Linked DNA regions of Homo sapiens. The protein of the gene in region 1 interacts with the protein of each later gene in a pairwise test. Each region holds a gene or a part of one and is shown in the gene's direction. Other genes may lie near its edges.

Evidence for each region.
Region 2: the proteins of ENTREP1 (region 1) and ANKRD13D interact in binary tests that used the Homo sapiens proteins (3 or more experiments, as listed by UniProt).

Annotation. Positions count from the first base shown.
Region 1 is NC_000009.12:69,321,204-69,328,367, forward strand, and holds the start of ENTREP1 (endosomal transmembrane epsin interactor 1), read left to right. Parts: upstream 1-4,011; 5' UTR 4,012-4,106; coding exon 4,107-4,520; intron 4,521-7,164. UniProt on the Homo sapiens protein: Functions as an activator of the E3 ubiquitin protein ligase ITCH in the ubiquitination of the CXCL12-activated CXCR4 receptor. Thereby, triggers CXCR4 endocytosis and desensitization, negatively regulating the CXCL12/CXCR4 signaling pathway.
Region 2 is NC_000011.10:67,299,091-67,303,061, forward strand, and holds the end of ANKRD13D (ankyrin repeat domain-containing protein 13D), read left to right. Parts: coding exon 1-34; intron 35-439; coding exon 440-521; exon of another isoform or gene 522-531; intron 532-736; coding exon 737-798; intron 799-902; coding exon 903-1,033; intron 1,034-1,899; coding exon 1,900-2,057; intron 2,058-2,191; coding exon 2,192-2,308; intron 2,309-2,397; coding exon 2,398-2,561; intron 2,562-2,641; coding exon 2,642-2,733; intron 2,734-3,028; coding exon 3,029-3,242; 3' UTR 3,243-3,394; downstream 3,395-3,971. UniProt on the Homo sapiens protein: Ubiquitin-binding protein that specifically recognizes and binds 'Lys-63'-linked ubiquitin. Does not bind 'Lys-48'-linked ubiquitin.

The DNA of each region.
Region 1 (7,164 bases):
AGCACTTCCTTTTTTGTAAAATATAAGACCTGGAGGATCTTGCCAGGGAACAGGTTTTAAAGAGTTTCTTCAGCAGCTCTCACTCCGATGTGGAACAGCCTCCTTTAATTAGCTGACAGATGGGGGTCTTCTGAGAAGTGTGGAAGGAACTGAGGAGTTTATTTAAAGGGTCCTTGGGAGGCTGAGGTGGGCAGATCACGAGGTCAGGAGTTCGAGACCAGCCTGCCCAACATGGTGAAACCCTGTTGCTACTACAAATACAAATACAAAAATTAGCCGAGTGTGGTGGTGTGCACCTGTAATCCCAGCTATAAAGGAGGCTGAGGCAGAAGAATTGCTTGAGCCTGGGAGGCTGGGAGCCAGGCTCCTGGGAGCCTGGAGGTTGCGGTGAGCTGAGATCAAGTCACTGCACTCCAGCCTGGGCAAAAGAGAGAGACTCTGTCTCAAAAAAGAAAAAAAAAAGGTGTCCAAGAAACCTGGGCAAAGAGCCTGAACTCCTCAGTGGAGGAGGCTCCTAGTGCAAGGAGTGGAAAATGAGGGACAGGGAGGGGAAGCATTGGTAGAAGGTGTACGGAACCTTCTTGGAGTTGAGCTTTGATCTTGAGGAAAACTGGCAGCTGGGTTCCACCAAACAACACACTCCAGCTATTGTTTCCTTGAACTTTGGCCTACATTAATGAAGAATCTGGGGCAAATTTTTCACAGGTTCTTCCACACTTTATTTTTAAATTTTTTGATAACTTTATTGAGATATAATTCACATACCGTACATACAATTCACCCATTAAAGTGTACAATTCACTGGTTTTTAGTACATTCACAGAGTTGTACAATCATCAGTACAATCAATTTTAGAACATTTTCACCACCTTAAAAAGAACCCACATATCCTTTAGCCATCATCCCCTCGCAATCTCCCCATTTCCCCAGCCCTAAGCAGCCGGTAAGCTACTTTCTGTCTCTACAAATTTCTCTATTCTAGACAATTTAGATAAATGGAATCATATCATATGTGGTCATTTGTGACTGGCTTTTTTCACTTAGCATAATGTCTACAAAATTTTTAATTATTGTGGATACATAATAGTTGTACATATTATGGGGTACATATGATATTTTGAAACTTAGTATAATGTTTTTAAGGTTTCTACATGTAGCATAGATGAGCACCTCATTCCTTTTTACTGACAAATATACTCCACTGGCTGCATATTCCATGTTTTGTTAATCCGTTCATCCAGTTGATTGACACTTGGATTGCTTCCACCTTTTGGCTGTTGTGAATAATGCTGCTACTTGTGCACTGGTTTTTGTGTGAATATGTTCATTTCTTTTGGGTATATACCTAGGAGTGGAATAAGTGGGTCAAATGACAACAAACACTATACTTGACTTCCTGAGAAATTGCCAGACTGTTTTCAGAAGTCTTCAGTTTTTTTTTTTTTTTTTATTAAGACAAACGGAAATCAATGGCTCTGAATTATCCTATAAGAGCTTAGTTACATACAGGTTGTTCAGGTCTAACTAAAGACTTAATGTAAGCAGGGTTTGGGAGATGCAAAGAATCAAGCTTGGTTTACAAAAATACCAAGCCCAAATACTTGATATTTTTATTGGCATAATTTTAAAGGTTGGGGTAGTGTTACATGGATTTGTGTTTATAACCAGAAAAAGAAACTCAGTTATAAATGTGGCCAACAACAACAACAAATGACTGTACAACAACCCTTAATTAGTAGCTTTGGAAAAGTTTTAGTCACCTTATAAAATGAGTAAAGCCTTTAAGATGATAAAATCATCCACGGATTTCAGTTATTTTTGCTATCATCTGTTTCTGCATGGGGAAAAAGGCTTTAAAAATTTTAAGAATAAAGTATTTGGAAATACTTTACAGTATTTAAGTATATAATATACACAGAGATGCACACAAATCATAACTGTAACTCCATGAATTTTCACAAAATGAACCTTACTCATGTAATTAGTACCCACATCAAGAAAGAAATAGTCACCAGCACCCCTTGAAACCCTCTTTCCAGTCATAATCATGTCCCTCCTCAAGGACCAGTGGATATCCTGACTTCTAACAGCAACATTCTTAGACACAAATAATACATTTTTTGTAGTAAGTTTCAGGTGTCAAGAACTGGCCAATGAAATAGATTTGTTTAGCTGAGAGAATTTCTTAAGACTCAGTCAGACTTACTATATTGCATGGTGTAATACATTGTTAAAAATTAAATACTGTTAAGCTTGTATATAAAATAGAGTATAACCTCAGCCCCAAGAAGCTTTTCATTTAACATCAGCAGCAATTTAAGAGCATATACTGTATGGCATTTTTAAAAACTGCATGAAGCCGGGCGCGGTGGCTCACGCCTGTAATCCCAGCACTTTGGGAGGCCGAGGCGGGCGGATCACGAGGTCAAGAGATCCAGACCATCCTGGCCAACATGGTGAAACCCCGTCTCTATTAAAAAATATAAAAATTAGCTGGGTGTGGTGGCGGGCACCTGTAGTCCCAGCTACTCTGGAGGCTGAGGCAGGAGAATCGCTTGAACCCGGGAGGCGGAGGTTGCAGTGAGCCGAGATCACGCCATTGCACTCCAGCCTGGGCAACAGAGCGAGACACCATCTCAAACAAAACAAAACAAAACAAAAAACCCCTGCATGAATCAACAGACTTTAAACACTTATTTTGAAAGACATTTCCCTTTTCCTCCAGAATTTGAATTTATTCATGGGAGCAGTCTGTAAAGGAAGTCCTAGGCACCATTAAAGACAAGTGCTTTAATAATTTAAGAAGTGTGCATGTAAACTTGGGCACATTGACAGTATATTACATTGGGTTAAAGTGTAACGACCAATATAAATCCAGCTTCCACAAGCAGAGCATAAAAACTGACACATACTTTTCTTGGTTTATTGGGTAGGAGGATGTTAAATACCTTATGGTAAGATAAGCTTTCTAATACTGGAACTGACTAACTGCAAAGAACACTGCTCTGGTTCTTATCAGGAAAAAAAGTCCATTATAATCATTTTAGGCACGAAACTTTCTACGCATTAGAATTCTTCCGAGGTGAAAAGTATATTATTAAGGGAATTCATTTTGCAAAGAGGAATCTTTTTTTTTTTTTTTTTTTTTTTTTTGCTCTAAAGATTTTTCATAAATTACCAGAGTAGTTTAGGATTTTATTAGGATATTTCCTCGGAAGTTTGGGGGTTCCGTGTTCTATCAGGTGATGCCTAATAGATGCCTGATATAGCTCATAAGTCAATGAGAGGACAGAGCGTTACACTTGCCATGCACTCCGGGCTGCCCCGGGTACTTTCTTTACGGATGCTGGATGCTTCCAAGGTAACCCAGTCCTTTCATTCCCGCTCCTACCGAGATGCCGGGAAAGCACTCCCGCGCCGATGCGAGGTAGGCACGTCCTGCGCCCTGTGAGCGGTAACTGCGCTCGGCGTCGTCCTTCCCGAAGTCCTTGGCTTACACCTCTTCCCATCGAGTCGCCCCAAAGCCCCTCCTCCAGGCATCCCCCTCCTTGGGCAAAAGTTTAAGGGCGGGCCCCCTTCTCACTAAAGCGCGCCAGGGCCTCTCTCGTGGCTGGACAGAGAAGGCTCCTCGCTCTTCTCTAGCCCCAGCTCGGCGGGTGGGGACAGACGCTGAGACTCTCGGTGGCCGGCGCTGACGTGTCCTGGCCGTGAGGTGCCTCCCACCTCGAGGGACTTACTTAAATATTTGGGGCAGGGCACCCTCCCAGGACCCCAGGAAGCCGGCGCAGGTTCGGCGGGGACCCTGAGGCTGTGGCGCACTTGCCCCGGCACAGCGCGAGCACGGAGTGCGCGTGGGTGAGAGTGAGGGTGCGCCCAGGGCCAGCGGGAGGCGGACCCGCCAGGCGGCAGGTGGGTGCGGCCGGCTGGAGCCAGGGCAGCGGCAGCGGCGGCAGCAAGTGGTTGGGCCGTGCGCATTTCCTTCCCTCCCCCTCGGCCTCGGAGCCCGTCTGCAGTGCCCAGTGTGCTGCGCCTTCGGCTCGGCTCCGCTCCGCGTCCTCTGCCCGCCGCAGCCGGCCGCACCCGGCCGCACCCTTCCCCGTCCGTCCATGTCCCTGCCCGTGGTGCTCCCGGGCTCCTGCTGCCCCGTGGCTGGGCTTTCGGGTGGGCCGCAGGCCGGGGGCCCGGGCGCCGCTGCCGCCGCCGCTCAGGAGCCGCCGCTGCCCCCGCTGCGGCCGCGCTGGCCCCGGGGCGCGCTGCAGCCCCCGTCGCGGCCTCGCTGCGCGGCCACCGCTGCTGCCGGGGTGCTGGCCGCGCCGCCGGCGCTCTCCTCCCGCCGGGCAGTCGCCGCCGCTGCCGCCGCGGCCCCGGGCTCCGCGCTGCTGCCCGCCCGCCCGCTGCTGTCACTTGGGCTGCTTCAGCTGATCTTGGGCTGCTGCATGGTGGCGCTCAGCTTCGGGGCGCTGTCGCTGAGCAGCTCCCCGCAGGTGAAGAACTCGTGCCCGTTCTGGGCCGGCTCCTCGGTGAGTACCGCGCGCGCGCCCCGTTCGCCCGGTCATCCCGGTGATAGGGGGCTCTGGTCGTTCCTCTCCATTGCCCCTTTGTTGGCCTCCAGGGCTGCAGTTGGGGGAGCCTCACGCCACCTGAAGTTTTTGGAGGCTGGAGAAAAATGTTCCGCGACGGTCGAGTTCAGGGGTGAATTGGGTTGCACCTGGGTAGTGTCTGTTGCGCGCAGGCTGAAGAATTTTATTTTCCCTGTCAAGCTAATAGAATTAAAGACACCCAGCTCTTTGGGAGATTGGAAGGACAGGGTGTGGGTGGCAGGAAAGTGGGAGGAAAATGATTAAACTTCTTTTGGTTATTGAGTATTTGCTGCACTGACAACGTCTGTGCTGGGAGGGCAGGGATTTTGATCATTTTTGTTCACTGATGTATCAAGAATGCCTGGCACATAGTAGGTGTATTTGTGAGATGGGACAGTTTGACTGGGGCACATCGCTTGTTTTATTCTGCATTAAGACACACGTAAATGTGAAATGTGTAGGGTGGCTCGACCCCCAGACGAGTTCAGGAGGTAATGAGGGGGTGTGTGTGAACTGGCGCTTGTACCTGGTCATTAAAGGAAGGCCTTAACCCCACTGGGTTCCTGGAGCCATGCAGGCTGCTGTGCAGAATTCAGTTTGTGAGAACCGGGACCTGTCATTATGGATGAGCTGGCCAAAAGTCCTGGAGTGCCCAGCAGCTAGCTAGAGATGTCTGCTCTACAGGACCCACTCCTCCCTCCTCCAACCGGGAACGCTGAGCCTGGGGCCAAAGAGTGCCCAACTTCAGAGAAAAGCTGCTGCCAGCCAGTATCTATGGACACCGGGTGGCCACTCCCCCCTGCCTCCTAACAATCTCACAATTTCCAAGGCATCCAACCCCTTGACGTTTTCTGGGTGTTGAGAGACTTGGAAACACATCTTTGTGGAATGACTATGGAAGATGAGCACAGTAAATAACCTCTCTTTATATCTTTTTTTTTTAATTTTTAATTTTTATTTTTAAGGGACAGAGTTTCCCCATGTTGCCCAGGCTGGTTTCCAACTCCTGAGCTCAAGCGATCCTCCTGCCTCGGCCTCCCAAAGTGTGGGGATTAGAGGCATGAGCCACCACAGCCGACCGTAAATAACCTTTCTATGAACTCACTGTGTAAATCTGAAAGTCTAGCAATGCTGCTAGGTTTTAGTAAGATGTATAATCAGTGTATGTCCTGAATGGTAAGAACGGCTTTTGCAGTTTCACACATACTGCAATTCAAGACCAAATTGAAAAAAAAAAAAAAGGACTCGAAGAACTAATTGAACCCAAAGTAATTGTTTGAATAAGAACATTAAGAACGTTAGGTTCCTTGAGACTCGCCTGAAATTGTATACTTCATCCAGTGTCAGTTTGCTTTCCTTTTGAAATACTTTCATGTTGAATGAACTTATTGGGGTACGTGCTGGACTGTGGTGAGTGAAAGCCATGATTTGTGCCTCATGAAAAAACGCCACCCTGGTGGCTCTGCCTGTGGGCTCTGCCACTGGCCTCTATGAGTGTTCAGGAAAACTACAGAAGGATGGATATTCCAGACAAGGTAGGAATTAGACCCGTTATGCCACCTATTCTGTTTGTCTGACTAAGTCCAGCCAAATGGTGGGTGCATTTCATTTCTCTAAATACCACGGGCCAGTAATGATCTTGCATATATTTTTAGGAATTTGCTCTTTATAAAATCATAATCTATTGTCTTCTCAAACATAGCTAGTTTAGGATTCTTAAAAACTATTTTTTGTCTTCTAAAATTAAAAGCTGAAATCAGTTTACTATTGTGAATCATTTCAGAGGTAAATGCACTTAGATATCGGTCAAGCCACAGTTGAATTTGATGAAGTACCAAAAGAAAAGAAAAGAAAAAAAAAGGCCTTCCACCAGAAGGTGAAGGTTAATACTCCTGGTCTGCTGGCTGGGTATGTCCTTGTCTCCAGGTCTGGGCACACCAGAGGAGAGAAAGAAATCAGTGATTTGGAACTGACAAGTTCTCTGCTATATGTCTTTCCCCATTCTTCCCCATACTCTCCAAACACAGGTCTATATGCAACTCTATAACTGTTGGCTATTCCTACTTTTTGTGACTTGTTCCTGAGATTGACCTCAGAATTTGCAAAGTGACAACAGAAGCAGTAGATACTGTATTTATAGAACAATTAAATACAAATTTAAGAGGATGGCTTTAGGCACCATGACTCTCTTGGTGCTTTAGGGGAAAAAAGCCTTGTATCACATGTTTTGAATTTATGCATGTGACAGAGGTTGTTTTTTAAAAACCTCGTGTTATGGAAAAGTTTACATTTATGCAGTATACGATGAACCCACATATACCTTTCACCCAGCTTCAACAATGGTTTCATCTGCACCCCCTTCCTGGGCTCTGCTGCTGGCCTTGTGTCTTCTGATAAACTTCAGAAGGATGAATATTCCAAGCAGGGTGGGAATTAGATCCTTCGTGCTCCCTAGTCCATTTGTGAGATTAAATTCTCTTATTGTTTGGAAGCAAATCTCAGGTGTCACATTTCATCTGTATATATTCCAATGTGTGTATTTTTATCACAAGAAAATATAACCAGCATAGGATTGAGTGGGCAG
Region 2 (3,971 bases), on another chromosome or scaffold:
GAAGATGGAAACTGTTAGCGGCTACGAGGCCAAGGCAGGAGAGGCTAGGGGTGGGGGGCTGGGGGTAGGAGATGAGGTCCAGGAACTCAGCTCCTCTCCACATCCATCCCAGAGTAGCCCCTGGGCTCTGGAAACCCTGAGCATTTGTGGGAACTCAGCGGGCCTGAGTGCCCAGCCCCTGCGGAGTACACAGGGCTCACCCACATCATGGGCCCCTACCCAGGGTACCGAGATCAAAAGAGGAGTGTGTTCCTCTTGACCCTGGGGCTGCATCTCCTCGTTGGTGACTTCCTGGGGTTCAGACCCTGCCACCTCCTCCATTTTGGGGAGCAAGATCTCATCTGTCTCTGGGACAGGAGGACCTGGGTTCTGCACTGGTGAGGCTGAGTGTGGGGAGCAGGCTCTGAGCCCCCAGCTCCCCGTGTCCCCTGCTCCCCAGGTGTACAGTGCCACCAACGTGGAGCTGGTGACACGCACACGCACGGAGCACCTCTCTGATCAGGACAAGTCGAGGAGCAAAGGTAAACCCAGGTGCGCCTGCCTGCTGCCCGGTCACACCGTGTGGTGGGGTCACCCTGGCCTGGGATTAGGGGCCAGAGTTTCCCAGGATGAGCTGGGAGGCCTCCCCATTCCCGTCTGACCCCTCTTCCCCCAGACAGTAGGCTCCAGGGGTGGAGGTGGGCAGGGGCGATGCGAGCATTGTGACCCCTTACCAGCTCCCACCCCTTCTCCGTAGCGGGGAAGACTCCATTCCAGTCCTTCCTGGGGATGGCGCAGCAGCATTCCTCCCACACCGGGGTGAGCCGGGGCTGGGCCGAGACAGGGCTGGCGGGGGGCCGAGCCTGGGCGGGAGGGCACCCTCTGTCACCTTGATGGCTGAGTCCGCCCTGGGACCCACGCAGGCCCCCGTGCAGCAGGCAGCCAGCCCCACCAACCCCACAGCCATCTCCCCTGAGGAGTACTTCGACCCCAACTTCAGCCTGGAGTCACGGAACATTGGCCGCCCCATCGAGATGTCCAGCAAAGTACAGAGGTGAGGTCTGAGAGCTGGCTGGGGACTTGCCTCGGGACAAGGGCTCTTGCAGACCCCTCTCTGGGCCTGTCATAGTTAGGGACCCACTCCCTCGGCTGGCTTCTCTCTGGACTCCACTCCTGGAGGGCAGGAGTCATGTCTGCCTTATCCATGGTCCTCAGCCCTTAGCAAGGGGCTTGGCACAGAAAACCGGTAGTTTGTCTTTGATGAATGGATGGTGCCACCCATGTATGGTTTTCTATTGAATTTCATGAGTACCTGCTGGGGCCAGCGTGGCACAGTGGGAAGGGCCCCCAGCGACGTGGCCTGGGAGTGGAGCGTCTGCCTTGGTGGAACAGAACAGTTACGCTCTTGCCTCGTGAGGAGCCTTGAGCAGGTATAGGCGGTAACAGCAGGCACAGTGCCTGCACAAGCCTAGCGCTCTCCCCACCATCTCAGGAGGATTCTCTTAGCCACCCAACAGTCGCTGGGATTCGAACCCTGGCAGTCTTGCCCTGGGGTGTGCTGGACATAAAAGTTTGGCAACACGTGAGCTGGTGACCAGCTCTGGGCTGAGGAGGAAAACGGGGCTGTGGGCCAGGCCCAGAGAGAAGCCCACAGCCTGGCACCTGGCCTCCTTGTCCAGACCAGATGAGCTGGTACGAAATCCTCAGGAGCCCCAGCCTGGGCCCAGGGAGGAGGGCAGCTTGGGCCACGTGGCCAGGACACCAGCTCCCGGGGGAGGCGGGCAGCGGCATCTGAGCAGAGCAGGGCACTCCAGGCCAGGCAGAAGGTGGGTAAAGGCAGCTGCCCACGAACCAGAGGGCAGTCCTCAATGGAAGGGCCACCAGCCGTGCCTCACCCATGTCCTGTGGTCGGCTGGGCAGGTTCAAGGCAACACTGTGGCTGAGTGAAGAGCACCCGCTCTCCCTGGGTGACCAGGTGACCCCCATCATCGACCTAATGGCCATCAGCAACGCTCACTTTGCCAAGCTGCGCGACTTCATCACTCTGCGCCTTCCACCTGGCTTCCCCGTCAAAATTGGTGAGAGGCTGGGCACAGGCAGCGGGAGGACCTCAGGCATGGCACCCTCCCTCAGCGCAGTCCCTGGAGAGCTGCAGGGGCCGGAGGCACAGGTGGCTCTCCGCCAGGGCTCAGGCGTGGCTGTCTTCTCACAGAGATTCCCCTTTTCCACGTGCTCAATGCCCGCATCACCTTCAGCAACCTGTGTGGCTGTGATGAGCCCCTGAGCTCCGTGTGGGTGCCGGCCCCCAGCTCTGCTGTTGCCGCATCAGGTACCCCAACGGGAGGAAGAGGGAGCCTGCACAGCTTTCTGGTCACCAAGCCCCGCGGGTTGAGCGTGGCCCCTCTGCCACCTGCCTAGGGAACCCTTTCCCGTGCGAGGTGGACCCCACCGTGTTTGAAGTGCCCAACGGGTACAGCGTGCTGGGCATGGAGCGCAACGAGCCCCTCCGGGACGAGGACGATGACCTCCTGCAGTTCGCCATCCAGCAGAGCCTGCTTGAAGCGGGCACTGAGGCGGAGCAGGTGGGACTTGCCCAGGGGGTGGGCTCTGGCCTCTGCAGCCACACGGCAGAAGTGACAGCTGTGGGCTCTGGTGGCTGCAGGTGACCGTCTGGGAAGCCCTGACCAACACCCGGCCCGGTGCCCGCCCTCCTCCCCAGGCCACGGTTTATGAGGAACAGCTTCAGCTGGAGCGGTGAGCCCCTCATGGGGCTGGCTGGGTCCCTGTCCCCCCAGCCCTGGCTTGGCGGGGAGGGGGATAGCAGGAAGGTGCTAGGACCCCAGGCCCTCTGCAAGGCCACCCTCTGTCAGCAGCGCTATCTGCCACCAAAGGTGGTGTGAGGGGTGGGGAAGCAGGGCCCTGCCTTGTCTCCTCTGCTTGCCACCCTGTCTTTGCCTTTGTCCTCCAAAGCCGGTCCCCAGCCCCTCGGCTTCTGCCCCAGCCTTGGCGCTCACTGGCCTGTTCTTCCCTCCCCTGCCCTGCCTGGAAGGGCCCTCCAGGAAAGCCTGCAGCTGTCCACAGAGCCCAGGGGCCCAGGATCCCCTCCCAGGACACCCCCAGCCCCCGGTCCACCCAGCTTTGAAGAGCAGCTGCGCCTGGCCCTGGAGTTGTCTTCACGGGAGCAGGAGGAGCGGGAGCGGCGCGGGCAGCAGGAGGAGGAGGACTTACAGCGGATCCTGCAGCTGTCACTCACTGAGCACTGAGCCATAGCCCCGGGAGGGCTGGCCAGGCCACTCCCTGCCCGCTTTTGTAATTTATTTATTTATAAACTCTCTGCTGCTGAGCTTGGGGCCTGGAGCCCCAGGAATGAGCAGGCAGGGGAGACTGAGATGGAAATAAAGAGACTGTCGCAGCAGGGCTGCTCTGCTCACTGGGCTGGAGCGGTGGGGACCCTGAAGGTGGGGCGCTGTGGAGAGGCACTGTGGATGGCGGCCTCAGACCTGGGCTTGAATCCTGGTCATGGTCCCCTTAGCCTATCTGAGCCTCAGTTTCTTCAGTTGTAAAATGAGGAGACCACCCCCCACCCTCCGCCCCTCAGGGCTGAAAGGAGCTGGCGAGAGTCACGTGTCCTTACCAAGCAGGCGTCCTGTGAAAGTCAGATCCCCTGTGCCCTGTCCCACCTGCTGGGGACCCGGTTCGTCCTGCCACCCAGCCTAGTCTTCTGGAAACCGGCCCACGTGCCTGCTGGGGAGGAAAAGCCTGGGTCCCCAGGCACCATTCACCTCCAGCTGGGAAGAGCCCCGACGCCGACCCCTGCAGCCAAGCCCAGGCCCTGGCCCTGACTGCGGCTTGTTCTCTGCGGGTGGGTTTGCGCAAGTCACTTCCGCCTGCGTAGCTGGAAGCCCTGCCCTGCTCGCCTCCGAGGTGGACCTGAGAGCCCCTCATGGGCTTCCTGGGTTATTTGTAAACCCCAGGCCGTTTTCCCCGGAAGC